Regions from separate parts of the Homo sapiens genome. Here region 2 is linked to region 1. The links come from fine-mapping of genetic effects on gene expression. A gene starts in region 1. The other region holds a variant in brackets. All regions are shown on one strand. Distances are from middle to middle.

Region 1 (9,523 bases):
CCACCTTGAGAGATGGTGATGGGGAAAGAGAAGCCCTCAATACCACACTTAGGGAAAAGTGGTTTTTAAAGTCCCTCGTAAAGTCCTGACTTACCACAGTTTAGTGGCAATGACTTACCACAGTTTAGTGACAATGACTAAACTGAGAAACAGAGTCAAGCGTTTGAATATGTTTGGGAATCAGTAAAGGGCAAGAGCTTTTTTTGGTAGCTGCCTGCAAAAGGCTGCAAGGAAAGGAAGGCTCAGGGCTACTGCTTAGGCGCTCCACGAGGGTTCCCGCGACGCATTGCCCTTACCTGGTGCTTTGCATGAGAACTCAGGAGTCTGAGCTTTTTTTGGATGAGGGGTAGATCCCTCCATCCTAGTGATGTGAATTAAAGATCTTAGGTCCTCCTCTAAAGACCTCCCACAGCCTGGAACTTCAGGTTTTCATCAAGTGCCCAGGACGGAATGGGAATGGAGCTGTAACTAGCCATTTATTCCTGCACGGGAATGAGCCTGTGCAACCCATGCCTGAGAACAGGACCAGACAGCAGGAAGTGAGGCGAGAACCTCTGGGCAGTGAGGGGTGGTGAAACGCAGAGGGGAAAGCTGAGAGAAGGGCCGAGGGCAAGCTCCTCTTGCTGTGGCTGCTTGGAATAGTGTCTGTCCAGAATCATCAGCAGGTGAGAATGGCTGTTCCCCCATCTGTAGATTGGCAGCCTTTTTTCTTTTCTAATTGATGCGGTTACCAAAGATCAAATGCCCCCAGGGATGCCCACAGAAGCTTGCCGGGCCTCTTTCTAATAATACGGTCTATGAATACACTCCTGCCAGCTCATGGAAGCAAGTCTCCACTGCTGGCTGATGTTCTGGGAAATCCATACCCTCCCCCATTTCCTTCCTGGCTTTTGAGTACCCATGTCCCTGGTGTCAAAGCACCTCTAGGGATCTAAACTTCAAACCTTGCCTCTGGTTCCTCTGGGGTTTGGCAGGAAGACTGTTCTGTTTGGTCTTCAGCTCTCTTCAGCTCTCTTGCTCCCTTCCTCCTGCAATCTCTCCAAATCTCTGATCTGAGAGCTGATTACCCTGTCTAGGACCCCACTGTGCGTGGACCCCCGGAACAGCATCCTAACCTCGGTTCCACATCCAACCCTCACAGCCCAATCTCCCCACCACAGCCAGAGTAATGTTTTTTCTTTTTTCTGACAGCTTCTTGCTGTGTCGTCCAGGCTAGGGTGCAGTGGCACGATCTCAGCTCATTGCAACCTCTGCCTCCTGGGCTCAGCCTCCGCCTCCTGGACTCACTCAATCTCCTACCTCAGCCTCCCTGGTAGCTGGCACCAGAGGTGTGCACCACTGTCTGGCTAATTTTTTTATTTTTTATAGAAATGGGGTCTCGCCATGTTGCCCAGGCTGTTCTTGAACTCCTGACCCCAGGAGATTCACCCTCCTTGGCCTCTCAAAGTGCTGGGATTATAGGCATGAGTTACCATGCCTGACCCAGAGTAATCTTTTTAAAACCAAAATCAAAGCATGTCAGCCTCCTGTTTGAACCTTGTGTTAGTCTTTTTTTTTTTTTTTTTTAAGACGGAGTCTTGCTCTGTTGCCCAGGCTGGAGTGCAGTGGCATGATCTTGGCTCACTGCAACTTCTGCCTCCTGGGTTCAAGCAACTCTCTTCTCAGCCTCCCGAGTAGCTGGGATTACAGGCATCTGCCACCACGCCTGGCTAATTTTTTTGTATTTTTAGTAGAGATGGGGTTTCACCATGTTGGCCAGGCTGGTCTCAAACTCCTGACCTCATGATCCACCCACCTTCACCTCCTAAAGTGCTGGAATTACAGGCGTGAGCCACCGCGCCCGTCCGTGTTAGTCCATTTTGTGTTGCTATAAAGAAATACCTGAGACTGGGTAATTGATAAAGAAAAGAGGCTTAATTATTAATTAGCTCATGTTTCTGTAGGCTGTACAGGAGGCATAGCACTGGCATCTGTTCCTGGGGAGGCTTCAGGAAGCTTCCAGTCATGGCGGAAGGCATAGTGGGAGCAGGTGCATCTCATACTGAGAGCGGGGATAAGAATAGGCGGGGAGGTGCCACGCACTCTTAAACAACCAGACCTTGTGTGAACTCAGAGCAAGAACTCACTCATTGCCAAGGAGTAGCACTAAGCCATTCATGAGGGATCTGTCCCTATGATCAAAACAGCCCCCCACCAGGCCCCGCCTCCAACAGTGGGGATTACATTTCAACATGAGATTTGGAGGGGACACACATCCAAACCATATCAAACCTCTTCAGCAGTTTCTACCGCACTAGGAGTAAATTTCAAACTCCTCTGTATAACCGAGAAGCCCCTGCATCATCTGGCTCTTGCCTCCCCTTCCAGCCCTGTGTGACTCACTTTCCCCTGCTCACCATTCCAGGCCTCCTGGCCATTCTCAGCAGTACCAAGCTTTCTTCTGCCTCAGGACTTTGCACAGGCTTATGCCTCTGCCTGAAATACTCTCCTGTCCTTCCTCCTACCCCCATCTTTTGCTAAGATTGATTTTTCTCATCCTTGAGGTCCTAGCTTAAATGTCACTTCCCAAGAGAGATCTTTTTTGACCACCCAGTCTAAAATAATTTGTAATGACATAATTTGTAATTTTTGGGGTGCTTGTCTGTTTACTGGCCTCTTCTCTGTCCTTTTGTGTGAGTTGTTCACCTTGCATCCGTCAGAGCAGGCTAAGCTATGTGCAGTAACAAACAACTCCCACATCGTAGTGTCTTCAAACCATAAGGGCTTATTTCTCAGTCATTCTAAATGTCCATCACAGGTTGGTAGGGGGCCTGTGCTCATTGTAGAAACCCTGGCTGATGGAGCAGTCACATTTCCTAACATTCTCAGTAGCCATACCAAGGACAAGAGAGCTCTGGAGGGTCTTATATTGGCAATTAATTTCTCCAGCCTAGAAATGATTATGTGTCATTTCTGCTCACAAGTGATCGGTTAGAGCTAGTCACATGGCTCCACCCAACTACAGGGCTAGGAAGTTTCCAGTGCTCACAAGAGAGGAGTAGAAATGTTTGTCAGACAGCACTAAAGACTCCCACAGTAATCAATAAATACTTTAGAAGGATGGAGTGTCTAGAATGCTCTTTCCATGGCAGCAGTCGTTTACAGCATCCTTAAGGAGTCCTGCTGGGGATCTTGTATTTCTGCTGCTCAAGCCCCTGGCTCTGCTGGGAGTCAGAGTTCTGGTAGGGAAACTCAGCAGACAAGAGGTCCCCTGAGACCTGGAATGAGCCACCTTAGAGGCAGCTGAGGCTGGTGGCCTCTTGGTTCCCTTCTCCCGTTGGGACACGTTTCCCCTATTGGTGTCCTGTGTGAGACAGCCCCGCCAAAAGGGTCCTGCCACTCCTCTCTGAATATACTGCACAGCTCAGGGTCTGGCATGTCCAGGATCTGAATAGATGATCCTGCTGGAGGAGTCCCAGTAGGACCCCTCCGAGTTCTAGGCAGGCAGAGAATGAAAGCAGCATTTCTCAGAAAGCCCTGTGCATCCTGTTACCAATGCAAAGGAATGGCACTTCAGCACCCCAGAAAAGGTGGGGAAACCTCCTGCATCTGCTGTGGGTCCTAGGGGATGGGGGGCAGGTGGGAACAGTAGAATCCTGGCCTGTGGCCTGATTTCTGACCCTGTTCCCTCAACTATCATACCCTTTTCACTTGGGTAGGCTGCTGCAGCTGCTCTCCTCTCTATACTTGCATTTGACAAAGGGTACCACCACAGCAGGCCCTTTCCACCAGGCTGCACGCGGTCACACTTGATACAGATGGGCTTTGGGAGATAAGGCTGTACCAGATTGGTGATCACACACTTGACTGTACATCGTGGCCTCTGGTGGCAATCACTAATGTAAGCTCACATTCCTGAGGCACTCACCAAGTTCCTAGCACTGTACTGAGAGCTCTATGTGGACTTGCATGTACATCTTCTTACCTATAGCATGGAGGTGCTGCTATTGGGCAGCTGGTGAAACTAAAGCCCACAGAAGTAGTTTCCTAATTAAGTAACTGCTAGTCACAAGGTAGAGCCCTCCTTTAATCCTATGCTTCCAGACTCCAAACCTGTGCACTTAACTGTTACTCCGTAAGAAAAGGTTTGGGTCTGATTCCTCTTCTAGGTTATAAATACTAGGGAGCTTCCTCTTTGAGAAGCCTCCTACCCCATCTCCTTACTGTACCTAGCAAAGTGTCTGTCATACGATTAGCACTCAATAAAAGTTTTAAATGTGAATGAGAATGGTAAAAACAGAATACTTAGTAGGCTAACACTAGGATATTCTTCTGATTGCACTTTTTTGTTAAGTTGGTCACTTAAGACTAAGGTAAAGCTTCTGTGCTTTTTGATATAGATGCTGATGGAGGGACTGGATCTGGTAGATACATAGCAATCTAATCATGGCCCAAAGCCTCCAATATAGTATACACATGCATCCTAACTTACAATGATCAACAATGAAAGAATTAATTACACTGTGCTAGCAGCCATGGATATCACATTGCATAAGAGATAGTTCCCTCCCTTAGAGATAAGAGGCAGACGTTTAAACTGTCAGTTGCGATGGCTTGTGACTCTCATGAGGTCTGCGTAGGGGTCAGCACGGTCACAAAACCTGTGGAGGAGGAGGTGGTTAGGAAGGAAAATCCACCGAGATGAAGCTGTACTGGATACAAAATCACACGTTCCTGGGCTTTGGCAGGGAGCTTGCCCACTGCACTTCCTGCCTCGAGGCTATGGCTGGGGTGGGATTCTGGCCCTTGTAGGCGGCCTGGGTCCAGTCTCCGCCATGCACTCACTAACTCCATTACTGCTAATGGGATGTCATCAGCGAAGCGAGTGGTGGCGGCAGGTGGAGTCCCGCCCCAAGACCCCCGGGCGGCATCCCCATCGCCGCGCTCCAGCACTCTTCGCCACCTCGTAATTTTCTTCTGTTTCTGTATGATCAGGTCTGTCCTTCGCTTTTGCTTTCCATTACTTCGTCCTAGCCCTGGCCTGAATCCCACAACTGGCGCCCCACCTTGTGCACCCGCACCCGCCCTCAATACCGGCGGGCAGCTCCTCCACTGCCGCAGGGTTACCAGCTGCGTGTCCGAGGGGCAGAGAGAGAAACAGAGGGGGACGGGGCAGGCGCGCTGGGCCCGCCCCCCCGTGCCTGGGGCAGCTTCTCATTGGTGAAACCTCCTCCCCGGCCGCCCGCTGCTTGGAAAATCAGCCTCGGATTGGCTGACAGCCCCCCGACGGGCGTGGCTTCCGAGGAGAGGGCAAGAACGGAAGCGAGGGCGCGCTCTCGAGAGGAGGGGTTGCCTAGGCGACGCCGGAGGCGCGCTCGGGGGGTGGGAAAGCGAGCCCGGCAGCTCAATGACAAATCGGTGGAGGACGGCTGGGGTCCGGCCCCGGGAGGGGGCGGGGCGCGTTTAAGAGCTGCGGGCCGGGTGCGGACGGCGGAGGCGGCGGGACTGGTCCCTGGTAAGGGCGCGGCGCCCGCGGGCCCCGGGCGGGGTGGGGCGCGGGCTGGGGAGTGGGGTACGCCGCACGCCCGCAGCCTCTTGCTCCCTCCGTGCCGGGCTGTGGCCGGGCGGCGGCAGGACATGTCGCGCCCCGAGGCCGGCGGAGGGCGACGCCCCGGCAGCGGCCCCGCTCCGCTCCGGGAGGACTCCCTGGGGGAGTCTCGGCTTCCTGGGCTGCCTGGGGCTGAGGAAGTGGGGGCGGCCTCCGCCTCTCCCTTGTAGCCGCGGTTCCTTCCCTATCCCGCAGATGGCTCTGCTTCCACTTCCTGCCGCGGGCCTCCCGCTCGGGACCGTCCACTTCCTCAGTCCTCCGGCCGCGGCTTGGGCAGGGTCAGGGCTGGGAAGTGTTGCAAAAACTTAACTGCCCTCGGAACTTGCACGCGCCGTGAACTGGGCGGTGTTCCTAAAGGGCTTCGGTTTGCTGGTTTTGTTTTGGTCCTGTCTTGCAAATGAGCATAAAGTTGTTTCTCCCCCAGCCTCCTCCCCTTTCCTTTCTGATAGGGGCCAGCGGCGAAGGGGCTTCTAAGGGGAAGCGCCTGGACTGGGCATCGCCGTCCCGGTTCTTGCCGCCTGTGGGAGTGTGAGGTTAACCGTGCTCGGTGCAGGGTTGCGGGGCGCGGAGCTTGCTGCGTCCACACTGCTTGTGTGAGCAGTGTCCTCTCTGTGCTCATTTCCAACGAGAAACGTTGGAACTTTGGTGTTCTTATCAGGTGAGTCTTCGGGAGAGAAGTGCTTGTGCCTGGCGGACTGAATGAATTGGCCGTGGAAGAGACTTGGCTGATTGCTCATCTGGGTTACCTGTGACTCATCTTCAGCCCTTGTAGAACAGTGCACTTTCTGCTCTGTCCTGGTTTCCTAACCTCATTTCTTCTGAAGTTTTGGGGATGGATGGTGGGCATGGAGTATCAGAGGGGATAGTGAATCTTTTAGAGGTGTCAATGACTGATGTTCCAAGCAGAGCCATAAGATTGTTGGATGTCAAAGCTCAGAACCGGTCAAGGCTCAGAATGCTCCTTAAACCTGGAGCAATAGAAGCACAGTATCGAAGTTCCCAGAAATGGGCCGACCATGAAAGGTAGCACTGCATATTGGGAAAAACAGGAGGGGTGAGTTTGAAGACCTGGGTTTGATGCAGGTTCTGAGAGTTTACCGGTGTTGTGATGTGGAGCACGATCTTTCCCCCTCTGAGCTCCAGAGTCAGCAACTGTAGAAGGGTGATGATAGTTATCCTAATTGTTAGGATTAAACGAAATAGGAGCGGGGGAGAAGAAGGCCAGGGAGACATATCCTTTGTGCGTGGCTTTAGTTGTCAGCCGGTCTGCTTTATTCTGACCACATCTGGGGCTTTCCTTCCTTGCCCATTCACATTGCTTCCCATTGGAAACAGCACTCTTATCGGAGATCTCAGCCAGATTTCCCTCTGCCCGAGGAATAGAACATTTTCCCAGGATTGTGTGTGGAAAATAGTGTAAGTTATTAGATATCTTTTGGGAACTTGGGACCTAGACCATAAGGATAAACAGGATTTAGAGTCTTCCACGGCATATGAAGAGATTTTGGTAGAAGATGAGGGTAGAAAAGTTCTAAATTCTTGCCTTGACTGAAGATGGCTTGAGATTCCATGAAAAATTTTAAGCCTGAGAATTGAGATAATCCTTTTTTTGTTTGTTTTTGGGGGCAGAGTCTTGCGCTATTTCCCAGGCTGGAGTGGAGTGGTGTGATCACCGCTCACTGCAGCCCCCACCTCCCAGGCTCAGGTGAGTCTCCCACCTCAGCCTCCCGAGTAGCTTGGTACAGTCTTGCACCACCATGCCAAGCTAATTTTTGTATTTTTTGTAGAGATGGGGTTTCACCATGTTGCCCAGGCTGGTCTCGAACTGCTGGGCTCAAGCCATCCTACCACCTTGGCCTCTCAAAGTGCTGGGGATCACAGGTGTGAGCCACCCCGTCTGGCAGGGATAATTCTTTCTTCCAAATCACGTAATCCTACTATGCCTCTTTGCATTTAGTTGCTAAATTCTTACCCCCCTCATGTAACTTATGGAAGTTAGAAACATCATTAGAGACCTTTCTTGAAAGCTAAATTTGGAGACAATGTAAGACTAGAGTGCGAAGAGATCTAGGTGAACTCTGTAGTTTTCCAGTGTAACTTGTCTCCAGATGGTATACAGGAGTCCCACTTTTCCTTGGCTCCAGTTACTGCTAAACAGCCCCTGCTCTAGACATGCAAGACGCTTGGTTTTTTTTTCGTTTTGTTTTTTTAAATGAATGTATGTTCTGAATGTTATCGCAAAGAGAGCCGAGCACAGAGGAAAAGGAACTCTTCCTTCATCACATGGCGGAGTAGTTAAGGAGGAGAAAAACTAACAGTTACTGAGCATCAGCTGTCTGCTTGGCACAGACCACTGATCCAAGCCATACCAGTTAAATATGTGGCCTTGGAGATTTGACCATGGGCTGTCTCCTTTAGCTCCTCAGTTCTTTTGGTACCTAGGAATATAAATATTGGTGTATGTGTACATATATTCTTAGATATTCCAAAAAGCAGAGGGGCCAGTAGGCAAGAGGGTTGATGAGTCTTGGATAGGTGACAGTGGAAAGAAAGATGAAGAGGATGTGGAAGTGAGTGTCAAAGAGGGACGGTATATGTGCTTACTAGAAGCAATTGCAAAATTCTAGCCAGGTCTCAATTTCAAGTTTGTCACTTTAAAAAAAGTAGCTGCTTATAATTTTCCTTAGTGTTCTCCTGGCTGTTTTTGTTTTTGGTGATGGTGGCTAGTTGTTTTTTAGTTGAAATCTAAATGCAGAAAAGAAAAATGCCATTAATTGATAATTACCAATATATTGTTTTCATTGTTGCTTTTGTCAGTGCTTTGTGGGCATTTTTTATATATAGCATTGTTCCAAGCTATACGGCATGAGATGAAGGAAATATAGTAGTTTGGTCCTGCGTGCCTGGCTGCCTGTAAAGTTTGCCTACCTTTTGAATGAGTTTTCTGTTGCTGCATAACAAATTTCCCCAAACTTAGCAGCTTAAAACAACAGACATTTATGATCTCACACAGTTTCTGAAGTTGAAATCTGGGGACAGCTTGGCTGGGTGCTTCTGGCTCATGGTCTCTCCTGAGGTTGCAGTCATCTGAAGCTCGACTGGGACCAGAGGATCTGTTTCCAAAATGGCACGTTCACATGGCTGTTGGCTGGAGGCCTCAGTTCTACACCATGTGGGCCTATGCACAGGGCTTTTCACAACATAGCTTTTCTCCCCAGAGCAAGTGATCTGACGGGGGTGGGGAGAGAGGGAGAGAATGAATATGATAATGATCAAGATGGAAGCAGCAGTATATTCGTGGCTGATATGGTTTGGCTGTGTCCCTACCCAAATCTCACCTTGAATTGTAATCCCCATAATCCCCATACGTTGTGGGAGGGACTCGGTGGGAGGTAATTGAATCATGAGGGCAGTTTCTCCCATACTGTTCTCCTGATAGTGAGTTCTCACGTGATCTGATGGTTTTACAAGCGTCTGGCATTTCCCCTGCTGGCACTCATTCTCTCTCCTGCTGCCCTGTGAAGTGGTTCCTTCTGCCATGATTGTAAGTTTCCTGAGGCCTCCCCAGCCCTGCGGAACTGTGAGTCAATTAAACCCCTTTCCTTTATAAATTACCCAGTCTCGGATATTTCTTCATAGCAGCATGAGAACAGACTAATCCAGTGTCTAATCTTGGAGATGGCATACCATCCCTTCTACCAGCATTCAGACCAGACCTGGCACAATGTGGGAAAGGACTACAAGAGGGGAGGTCAGGGCACATCAGTATTCTTGGAGGCTAGCCACCACAACTTTTTTAAGGTTTAGTCCAGACATCATTGAGAAAATCTTTCTTTCAGATGTTTACTGAAGTATACTGTAGGAGATGGAAAGACAGCTGAGGTCTTTAGTATTGTAGAAGCTTTAATACTATATGTGAAACTTTTATGTTCTTTC
Region 2 (9,523 bases), 25 kb after region 1:
GACAAAGTATACGGATACCTGCAATTTACACTGAAATATATCGGAAAATGAGGTGCACTGATGGGTAGAGAGAGGGACGACAGATGAATGGATTTGTGATAAAGCAAATGGAGCAAAATGTTGATTGTAAAGTCCAGGCAGTGAGTGTATGGATTCACAGGATGGTTGTTTCAACTTTTCTTAGTGTTTGAAACTTTTTGGGATAAAATGTTGGGGAAGATACCTGTATTTTTTTAAGAACACATTTATTGGCTAGGCATTTCCATTATAGGTATTAAATCATTAACGTGAGCTTCCTAAACTTAACTGATTTTTTTTTCCTTCCTGCTCTTTCTCCTCCTGTCTTTATCTAGTCAGTTCCTTCAGCTCTTAGTTCATGCGATGTCCCTCCAGGAAATTTCCCCTGACCTTCCAGCCTGATACAGATATGTCTTTCTGTGTTCCCAGGGCACCACTTGCATACTTCTGCCATAGAATTTATTATCTTGTACTGTAATCATTTACTTACTAATCTGTCTGAACCACTAGTCTTTGAGTTTTTTGAGGGCAAAGACTGTGTTCTGGAATGTTTTTGGTACAAGAAAAAACAAACACAACAGTGGACTCTTTGTGGCTTAAACAGTTAGAAGTTTCTTATCTCTAATACCCTGTGTCATCGCCCGTTGGGTCTTCCTGCCCACTGCACAGACAAAACCAATTCACTGAGACCATGGTATTGCAGTAAAGAGAGTTCAGTGGACTCGAGGCTGGCCACATGGGAGAACTGGAATTATCAGTCAAATCAGTCTCCCTAAAGGCTCAGAGTTTAGAGTTTTTCAAGGATGTTTTGGTAGGCAGGGGGTTAGGGAATGGGTGCTGCTGGTTGGTTGGGGATGCAACTATAGGGGTGTAGAAAATGGTGCTTGTGCCCTTGAGTTCACCTCTGGATGGTGGCGAGGAACCACAGGACTGGTTGAGTCATAAGTCCATGTGGGGTCAGTCTGAAAAACATCTCAAAAGACCAATCTTAGGTTCTGCAATACTGATGTTATCTATAGGAGCAACTGGGGTAGTCCACATCTTGTGACCTCTGACCACATGACTCCTGAGCAGTAAGGGATTATAGGAAGGAGGCCTATATTTTAGCAGAACTCAGGCCCCTCCCATAATTCTAATCTCCTGGCCTTTTACTAGTTTTATAAAGGCCGTTTCAGTCCCTGAACAAGGAAAGGATCAATTTTAGGGAGGGACTATTATTATCCTTGTTAAACTAGAAATTCCTCTCAGGGTTGGTGTGGCCTATGCCCAGGAATAAGAGAAGACGCCGACCTGTAAGACCAGAGGCAAGATGGAGTCAGCACGTTCAGCTTCTTTCACTGTCAGAATCTTTGCAAAGGCAGTTTCACCCAAAGTCTGGAGGTTGCTGTTTCTAGGATTGGTTCAGTGAGGGGCATGTGGTCAGCACCTCTACCTTCCCTGTTCTTTCCCTTAATTATGCCAAGTTGACTGAAGCAGTGATACAGGCTGGAAATATCCACCATGGTTATTTCAGTTTTTGAACTTTAAGCACAGATATTTTGGGAAGTATCGGGGTGTGTTGAATAGTTTTCAATTCATTTATTATTTCTTCTAGAGAAATTGACTTGTTTTTGAAAACAGCAGTTCAGAATTAGATAACTACACGTGTTTGCAAGGATCCCCCCCAACCTGGAAAAATATCCTTTTCAGACAGCCATAATAATTCATAGAACCAGGATTGATTCAGAGAAATTGTGTGACAGGTTGATGGTCTGGAGGTTCCAACCTCATTCACAAACCTCAGCTCTGTAGGAAACAGTGTGGACCAGAAATGAGGCCAGAAGTAGTTTCACCTTCCTAAACTCAAGCCTTTTGGGGAGGTCTGCCTCTTATTCCATTTATTCTATTTTAGCCACATTTCAGATGTGCTTACTTATCTAGTTACTTGCTTAGCTCACTTATTTAAAAAAAAAAAGTACGTAATTTGCAAAGGGGGAGTGGAAAGAACGCCTGGTGTAGGCAGGCGGTCAAGAGTAGGGGGGAGAAGAGCAAATGTGATCTGGACTCCTGGCAGCCAAGGCCTTTCACAAACTGATGAGTGCCCTGAGGTCGTCAAGAGAAAGCTTGGTTATGTTCAGTCTGTGCTGTTTCAGAAGACAGAGAAATCTAATACATGAAAAGTAACTTGCAACACTACATAAATAATGGCCTCAAACAGGTTTTAAATATAGGAAGGTATAGATAAAATTCTGGTATACACAGTTAATAGTGAGTATCTCTGGGTGGTAGGATCATAGGTGCTTTTTATGTGTATTCTGTAAATTTGCTATGAGCATCGTTACTTTTAAAATACTTAAAAAGTATTTTAAGCATTCAGAATGGTTCTTTTTCAACTCCATCAGGTCTTTCAATGATGTCATTTTTTTCACATTTTGCCTTTGTCTTTGTTAAAATTGATCAACTAATACTTTTTATAATATTTGCCTGAAGAGTCCTGCTTGTTACTGCCATTGACTCTCATGAATTGCGATTTGCTTGTGTTTTGTGAGCTGGAATTTTAGGCTTTAGCTGTGAGACTCCCGAACACTCATTGCCCCTTGTTCCCCCAGAGAGGTTTCGTTTAGCATTGCCTGGGCCTCCAGCACTATGAGCAGCCTGGGACCACTTTTCATGTTACTTTATTGGCTTTAGAGGAGTGTTGTGGGTATAGGTTTTCAGGGGAGAATTCCCTACAGCCAGAGCCCAGACAAGCTTCCTTGTCATTTTCCTCTGTTGGCGCACAGATGGTGTGCTCCTTCAAGGGTCTTGACTTCTCAGTTCCCAATTGAAAAGGTGTCTCAATTCTAACTGCTACCTTGTGTGTATGTCTGGTCTCCCAGCCATGTGAATGTGTGTGTGTGCATGCGCACACATGCACATGTACGTTAAATCCTAAATTACCAAGAACAGCAACCATCCAGAACTGCAGGAACTGCCGCTCTTACTGCTCTGATTCTCTCCTGTTTGGGGATCCTTACTTTCTTTTGAGCTCAGCTGTGCATTTAAGAGCAATTCTAAGCCTTGGCTGCTCATGAGGATCACCTGGGAATCTTTTAGAATTTCCCATGCCCAGGTTGCATCTCAGACCAATTATTTCAGAATCTAGGGTGGGACCCAGGTGTAAGGATGTTTCTGAAGCTCCCTGCATGATTCTGTTGTATAGCTAAGAATGGGAACCACTGATTTAAGATGATGTTGTTTTATTTCGCCCAGTGATGTGTGTGTGTGTTGTGTGTGTTTATTTTTCTAGTGGGGATGTTTTCAGGCTATCTCGTCAGCAGTAAGGGAAATAGGAGTCCACCATGTTGTAGTTAGAATGAACACTCTCGTAAAGTGGCCTCGTTGTCTGGAGTGACATCCAGAGTTCTTGGTCTCATGGCCAAGGAAATCAAGGATGCAGACACACCAAGGGTGAGGTTTAGAGCAGAAATTGAATAGGAGAAAGAAAGAGAACGGTTCTCTGCCACAGAGAGTAGTCCTGGAAAAAGGGTTGCCATCCTGCAGTGAAATGCAGGGGTTTTTACAGATGTGCTAGTGGGGAGGCAGTATCTGATCTACATAGGGTGTGGAAAACCAGTTAGGACCAAGTGTGCCATCTGCATAAGGCATGACTCTCTGGCAGCACCCACCACAGTCTTTTATTATGCAGGCGAGTCCTCAGCCTGAGCTACTCTATGTTGCTTATTTCTTTCCTATTGCACATGTGCTAAAAATGGGGGAGGTGGAACCACCATGGTGGACCTGCCTGGCCCCAGGTAGCCCTTCTATTGGTGCAGCCGCTGGCATGCAGCTGTGCAAGCCTCCGGCTTCCTTATCTATGTTTGTAACCTGATCTTCCAGGCTGCTCTTTTTTAGAAAATAATTGATTTCTTGGGCTGTGTTTTGTTAGAAGGGAAGTTCTGGCCAGGTGCAGTGGCTCACACCTGTAGTCCCAGCATTTTGGGAGGCTGAGCAGGGGGTGGATCACTTGAGATCAGGAGTTTGAGACCAGCCTGGCCAACATGGTGAAACCCCATCTCTACTAAAAATACAAAAATTAACTAGGCAGGGTGGTGCGTGCCTGTATTCCCAGCTACTCAGGAGGCTGAGGCAGGAGAATCACTTGAATCCAGGAGGCAGAGGTTGCAGTGAGCCGAGATCGTTCCATTGCACTCCAGCCTGGGTGACACAGTGAGACTCTGTCTCAAAAAAAAGAAAAAAAAAAAAGGAGGAAGTTCTGCCGAGGACTCTTTGCCCTCACTATCTGCCTAAATGGTCTCTTTCTACCTCCTGTATCACTCTTACAATTAGATGGGATGGAAAACAACATTGGTTCATTCCTACTGGGTGCTGGGTCTGTGCCTTGGTGTTTTCCATGTATATCCTATTTAGTCCTCAGAACATTCCTGCAAGGTAGGTGGTGGTTGGTTTTATGCACATAAGAAAACTGGCTTGGAGACATTGAACTAGTTCTAGGGTCACGCAGCTCACAAATGGCAGAACCACACTCATGCCTGCCAGATGCCCAAGCCCTGCCCTTTATTCTTGTGTTTTGGTATATGTGAAATAGATTTTTCCATACAAATTGGTTAAAATAAAGATTGGCACTTGGGTTACGGTAGATTCCAGGTCCCTGTTAAATATACTTACTTGGGATGCTTTGTTGTCCCATAATACTGGAGTTGCTCTACTCATTTTATCTTCCTTCTGATTAGGGCAAATTGATTTTGAGATTTCTCCTTTTAACTCTCATGTCATGAAGGGGTATTTGTTCTTGAACTCACTTCTTTAATCAACCAGAGGGATGTGTGGGGCTGTGTAAGAGTGTGAGAGCATATGTGTGTGTGAGAAAGTGTATGAGAGCATAAGAGTGCATGGGAGCATGTGCGAGAGCGTGTGTGTTCTGTGAACGTGTTACAGCATGTGAGATTGTGTGTGGTGTGAGCATGTGAACATGTGTGTGAGAGCATGTGTGTGGTGGCGTGAACATGTATGTGTGAGAGCATGTGAACACGCATGTGCATGTTAGAGCCTCTGAGCCTGTGATATGAGCATGTGTTAGAGCA[T/TGTGA]GTATGTGGTGTGAGCATGAACATGTATGTGTGGTATGAGCATGTGAACGTTAGAGCGTATGTGAGTGTGTAGTTGTGTGTGTGTGTGAAAGCGTGAGTGCACCTATGAGAGGACAAGTGTGTGATAGTGTATGGAGTGTGTGTTGTGAGAGCATGTGAGCTTGTGAGTGTACATGAGCACAAATTTGAAAGTGTTGTGAGAGCGTTGTGAACGTGTTATGAGTGAAAGTGTGTATGTGGGTGTGTGTGATAGTGCGTGTGTGATAGTGTGTGAGCTTGTGTGTGAATGTGAGCATGTATGACAGCGTGTGCTAGCATGTGTGAGCCTGTGATAGTGTGTGAGAGCGTGTGAGAGCAAGTGTGTGAATATGTGTGTTTGAATGTGAGAACATGAGCATGTGTGAATGTGAGAACATGAGTGTGAAAATGAGTGTGAGCGTGTGTGTGAATGTGAGTTAATGTGAGCGTGTGTGAGCGAGTGTGAATGTGTGAATGTGAGTGAATGTGTGTGAATAAGAGCATGTGTGAATGTGTGTGCGAGTGTGTGAGCATGTGTGAATGTGAATGTGAGAGCGTGAGTGTGTGTGAATGTGAGCGTGTGTGAGTGTGAGCATGTGTGTGAATGTGGGCATGTGTGAGTGTGTTAGTGACCGTTTGTGAGTGTGAATGTGAGAGCGTGTGTGAGCGTGTTGTGAGTGTGTGCGTGTTGTGGGGTAGAGGGTAAGAGGGCAAAGCGAGGAGTAAAGCTAAAGAGCTGGGGATTGAGGTCCCAAGCTGTTCTCCGCGGCAGCCGAGAACCGAGCAGAGAGGTAGGAAACTGGAGCTACGAGCGGTTTGGTCTCTGCCTCAGTGAGGCCCTGCTGAGGGTCTGATGATTTTTGGTGACTGGGTGTCCTCTCCACCCTGCCCAGTGAGGCGGGCGTGGGGTGTGCGCTCCTGTTTCTCCCCTCTAGCCTTGGCTTCGCCCCAGCTGTGCTGGGGTAAGTGACTTCCAGAGTTGTTGGAGGGCTCGCATGTCTGCCCTGAGCCTGAAAGGATTACTTTCCTGTTGGAATGTCTGGGTTAGTTAGGCTTTAATGGAGGATGTGAATGACATTTGGTTTTAGCTAGGTTGAAAGCAAATCGCCTCTAAGTCTTTGTCTTTGTCATCAGCAGCTCTTCAGTGGGTCATCTGTGTGTCACAGCCTCAGAAGACCAGCGAGATGGCTGCCAACAAGAGTAAGGGCCAGAGCTCCTTGGCCCTCCACAAGGTGATCATGGTTGGCAGCGGAGGCGTTGGCAAGTCAGCCCTGACGCTTCAGTTCATGTATGACGAGGTAAGCCCTGCTAGGCACAGACCACCTTCCTTTGGCATTGGCCGTAGCAGTGTCCCTGCTCCCGCTGTTTCTGTGCCGGTCCTCCCGTACACAGGGGTTCACGGAGCAAGTCTGTGTTGAGGTGGCTTCTGAATAGCTTCCTAGGAAGGTCTAATCAGCATAAGATCTGGATTGCTGATTCTAGGTAAATAATTTCAACTCCGGCGGGGATGTGAGAGATCTCTGCTTGCATCGTTTCCATTGTTATACTTCGAGCTTTCTTTCTGACAAAAGCCCAGGGGAGGAGAGAGGAGCCTTTGTACAGATTTTCCAAACAACACAAGCATTTAGCCTTGTGATTGTCAGTCAATCGCGAAGTGAAAGAGAGTGAAAGGGGAGCTGAGCTGTCATACAACTTAATCCTTTCGCAAGTGATAGACATCAGATCCAGTTCTCCCGTGCGGCAAGGTAAAGCTTGCACTATCCTTGCCCAAAATTTACGTCACCTACTTAATGTGGATAACATCACTGGTGTTGAGTTCAGTGTGACAACACAGCCTTGATCCCCGGAGCTACAAAAGTCCCTGCTTGAGCTGTTTGCTAGGATACTTAGCCTACTGTGGGCTCTACATCTGCAGATTCAAGCAATGTAGAATGAAACGTTGCGGAATGAAAATATTCGGGAAAAAAACCCAATGAAAAATAACAATGCAATGATAAAAACAATACAAATTAAAACATGCAATGTAACAACTGTTTGCGTAGCCTTTACATTGTATTATGTATTATAAGTAATCTAGAGATGATTTAAAGTGTACGGGAGGATGTTACATGTAAATGCTGTGCCATTTTAAGTAAAGGACTTGAGCATCTGCAGATTTTGGTATTTGGTGGGGGTCATGGAACCATTTCTCTAGGGATACCGAGGGATGACTGTAGTACAGGCAGGGAGAGTGTTCCGAGCAGAGCTTAAACCTCAGGGCCTCTCACTTGCATTGCGGCCACATGGCTTTATGAGATTTGCGAAAGAAAGCTATCACAACCACGTCAGTTAAGATCACTACCTCTTTTCACTAGACTTTCCCATTGTCCTGCTTCCTCTTATGCTGGGTGCAGCTGGAGTGGCCATGGGCATTTTCGGCCTCTAGCTGAGGGAGTTTGTGTTGGGCTGGGTTAGGTGGGAATAGTGGTATGTGTTGGTGTGGTTTGGAGTCACGCGGCATGTGGCGATTATCGCTGGCTGCAGGAGTACTCCAACCGCCCACTGTGCTGACGTGCGAACATCGTGATGTGAGGTGCAGGGCCAGGGGTGGATCCTGATGCGAACCTGTCCTGTGGCACCTGACACAAGTGTGTGAGAGCTAGAAGCTAGAAACTGGGCCAGAAAAGTCTTTCAGATCTTACAGCTTGTACAGTGAAGCTCAATAGAGGTTTCCTAAATTTGGCAGTAATCCCAAAACTTTCATTACTAGAAATGCCATGTAGTCACATGCACATGTATGTTTATTGCAGCACTATTTACAATAGCAAAGACATGGAACCAACCCAAATGCCCATCAAAGATAGACTGGATAAAGAAAATGTGGCACATATACACCATGGAATACTATGCAGCCATAAAAAAGAATGAGTTCATGTCCTTTGCAGGGACATCGATGAAGCTGGAAACCATCACTCTCAGCAAACACAGGAACAGAAAACCAGACACCACATATTCTCACTCATAAGTGGGAGTTGAACAATGAGAACGCATGGACACAGGGAGGGGAACATCACATGCTGGGGCCTTTTGGGGGGCGGGGGGCAAGGGGAGGGAGAGCATTAGGACAAATACCTAATGCATGTGGGGCTTAAAACCTAGATGATGGGTCGATAGGTGCAGCAAACCACCATGGCACATGTATACCTACATAACCTGCATGTTCTGCACATGTATCCCAGAACTTAAAGTAAAAAGAAAAAAAAAAAAACTCATGTAGTTGTGAAGCTGAAAGAACCTCTTCTAAGCTGTCAGAACAAAAGACATTTTCATTAACCATGCTAAAGGAAAGACTAAATTATTTTTTATTCTCTATAGGAATGTTTCAAAATCATTGGCATATGACAAGAAAAAGTATACAGCAAACAAAAAAGTAGAAGGTATTCTAGAGGTATGTCAGGCAGTTTAATTAATAAAAATATTGTTATTTTGCTGGATTTTGTGATGTCAGTGCTGTTTGTATTAGTTTTTTTTATTACTGTATAATAATCACAAAGTTAGCAGGTTAAAACAACATACATTTGTCATTCCATAGTTTCCATGGGTCCAGAATTGGAGCCTCAGCTGAGTCCTCTGCTCAGAGTCCCACAAGACTCCACTCAAGGTGTCAGCTGGGGCTGTGACCTCTTCTGAGGCGTGGGGGTCCTCTTCCAGGCTCCCTAATTGTTGGTAGAATTTAGTTCCTTGTGGGTGTAGGACACAGGTGCTCGGATTCTACAAGTTGCCCGCAGGCCCCTGCCATGTGCCGTCTCCATAGGCAGCTCATACCACAGTGGCTTGCTTCTCCAAGGCCGGCAGGACAGTCTCCAGCCAGCCTAGACGGTCTTATAAAATGAAATGGAAACATGGGGGTATTCCCTTCGCCTCACTGAGAGTCACCCGGGGGTGAGATCGCTGGAGTACTCATCTTTAAAACTTTATAATGGATTATGATTTCTCATTCAATGTCAACATTTACTTTAATGTCCAGTATTACGTGTGTAATTTTGTATCTTAAGGAAGGGCCCCCATAATGAATAAGCTTCAAACCCAAACCTGGTTATCCTCCTGGGTCATGCTCCCCATGTCTTATAATGAGACACTTTTGTGTTTGGTACCTGCTTTTCTTTATCTTATTCTGGGGGGTCAAACTGGATAAATCTAATGTAATCTGCTGAATTTCCCCAAAACGTTTTTGCATAAGAGAAGCAGGTTGGGAGATCTGCATCTGCTTTGTAGGTCTTTTGTTTGTTTTTGCTCAAAAACTTATAATTTGCTTACGAAAGCTTTTTTCTCCCCTATAACAGAGGTTGGGGAAGAGAGGGGGTGGTGAGTAGGGGAATTAGGATTAGGGAGATAGGATTAGGGAAGTAGTTGTTAACAGAGGTGAGAGAGGGGGATTTTGCTTC

Direction of the effects. Alleles are on the strand shown, and positions count from the first base shown. SD is a standard deviation of normalised expression in the study named.
With allele T in place of TGTGA in region 2, the expression in lymphoblastoid cells of the gene that starts at base 5,366 in region 1 is higher (moderate effect, 0.63 SD a copy in GTEx).

Evidence for each region. PIP is the estimated chance that this variant, and not a neighbour inherited with it, causes the effect.
Region 2: its variant is fine-mapped to the expression of RALB in lymphoblastoid cells (GTEx, PIP 0.92).

What each region holds. Positions count from the first base shown.
Region 1 is chr2:120,247,487-120,257,009 of GRCh38, forward strand. RALB (RAS like proto-oncogene B) reads left to right here and starts at 5,366. Exons shown (of 5, transcript NM_002881.3): 1 at 5,366-5,494. RefSeq lists a silencer at 5,059-5,648 and an enhancer at 6,149-6,418.
Region 2 is chr2:120,272,382-120,281,904 of GRCh38, forward strand. RALB (RAS like proto-oncogene B) reads left to right here. Exons shown (of 5, transcript NM_002881.3): 2 at 6,237-6,397. The coding sequence starts at 6,284. Among named protein-coding and RNA genes, the nearest start is that of RALB, 24 kb to the left of the region's middle. The variant T/TGTGA (reference allele first, on the strand shown) is at 5,082.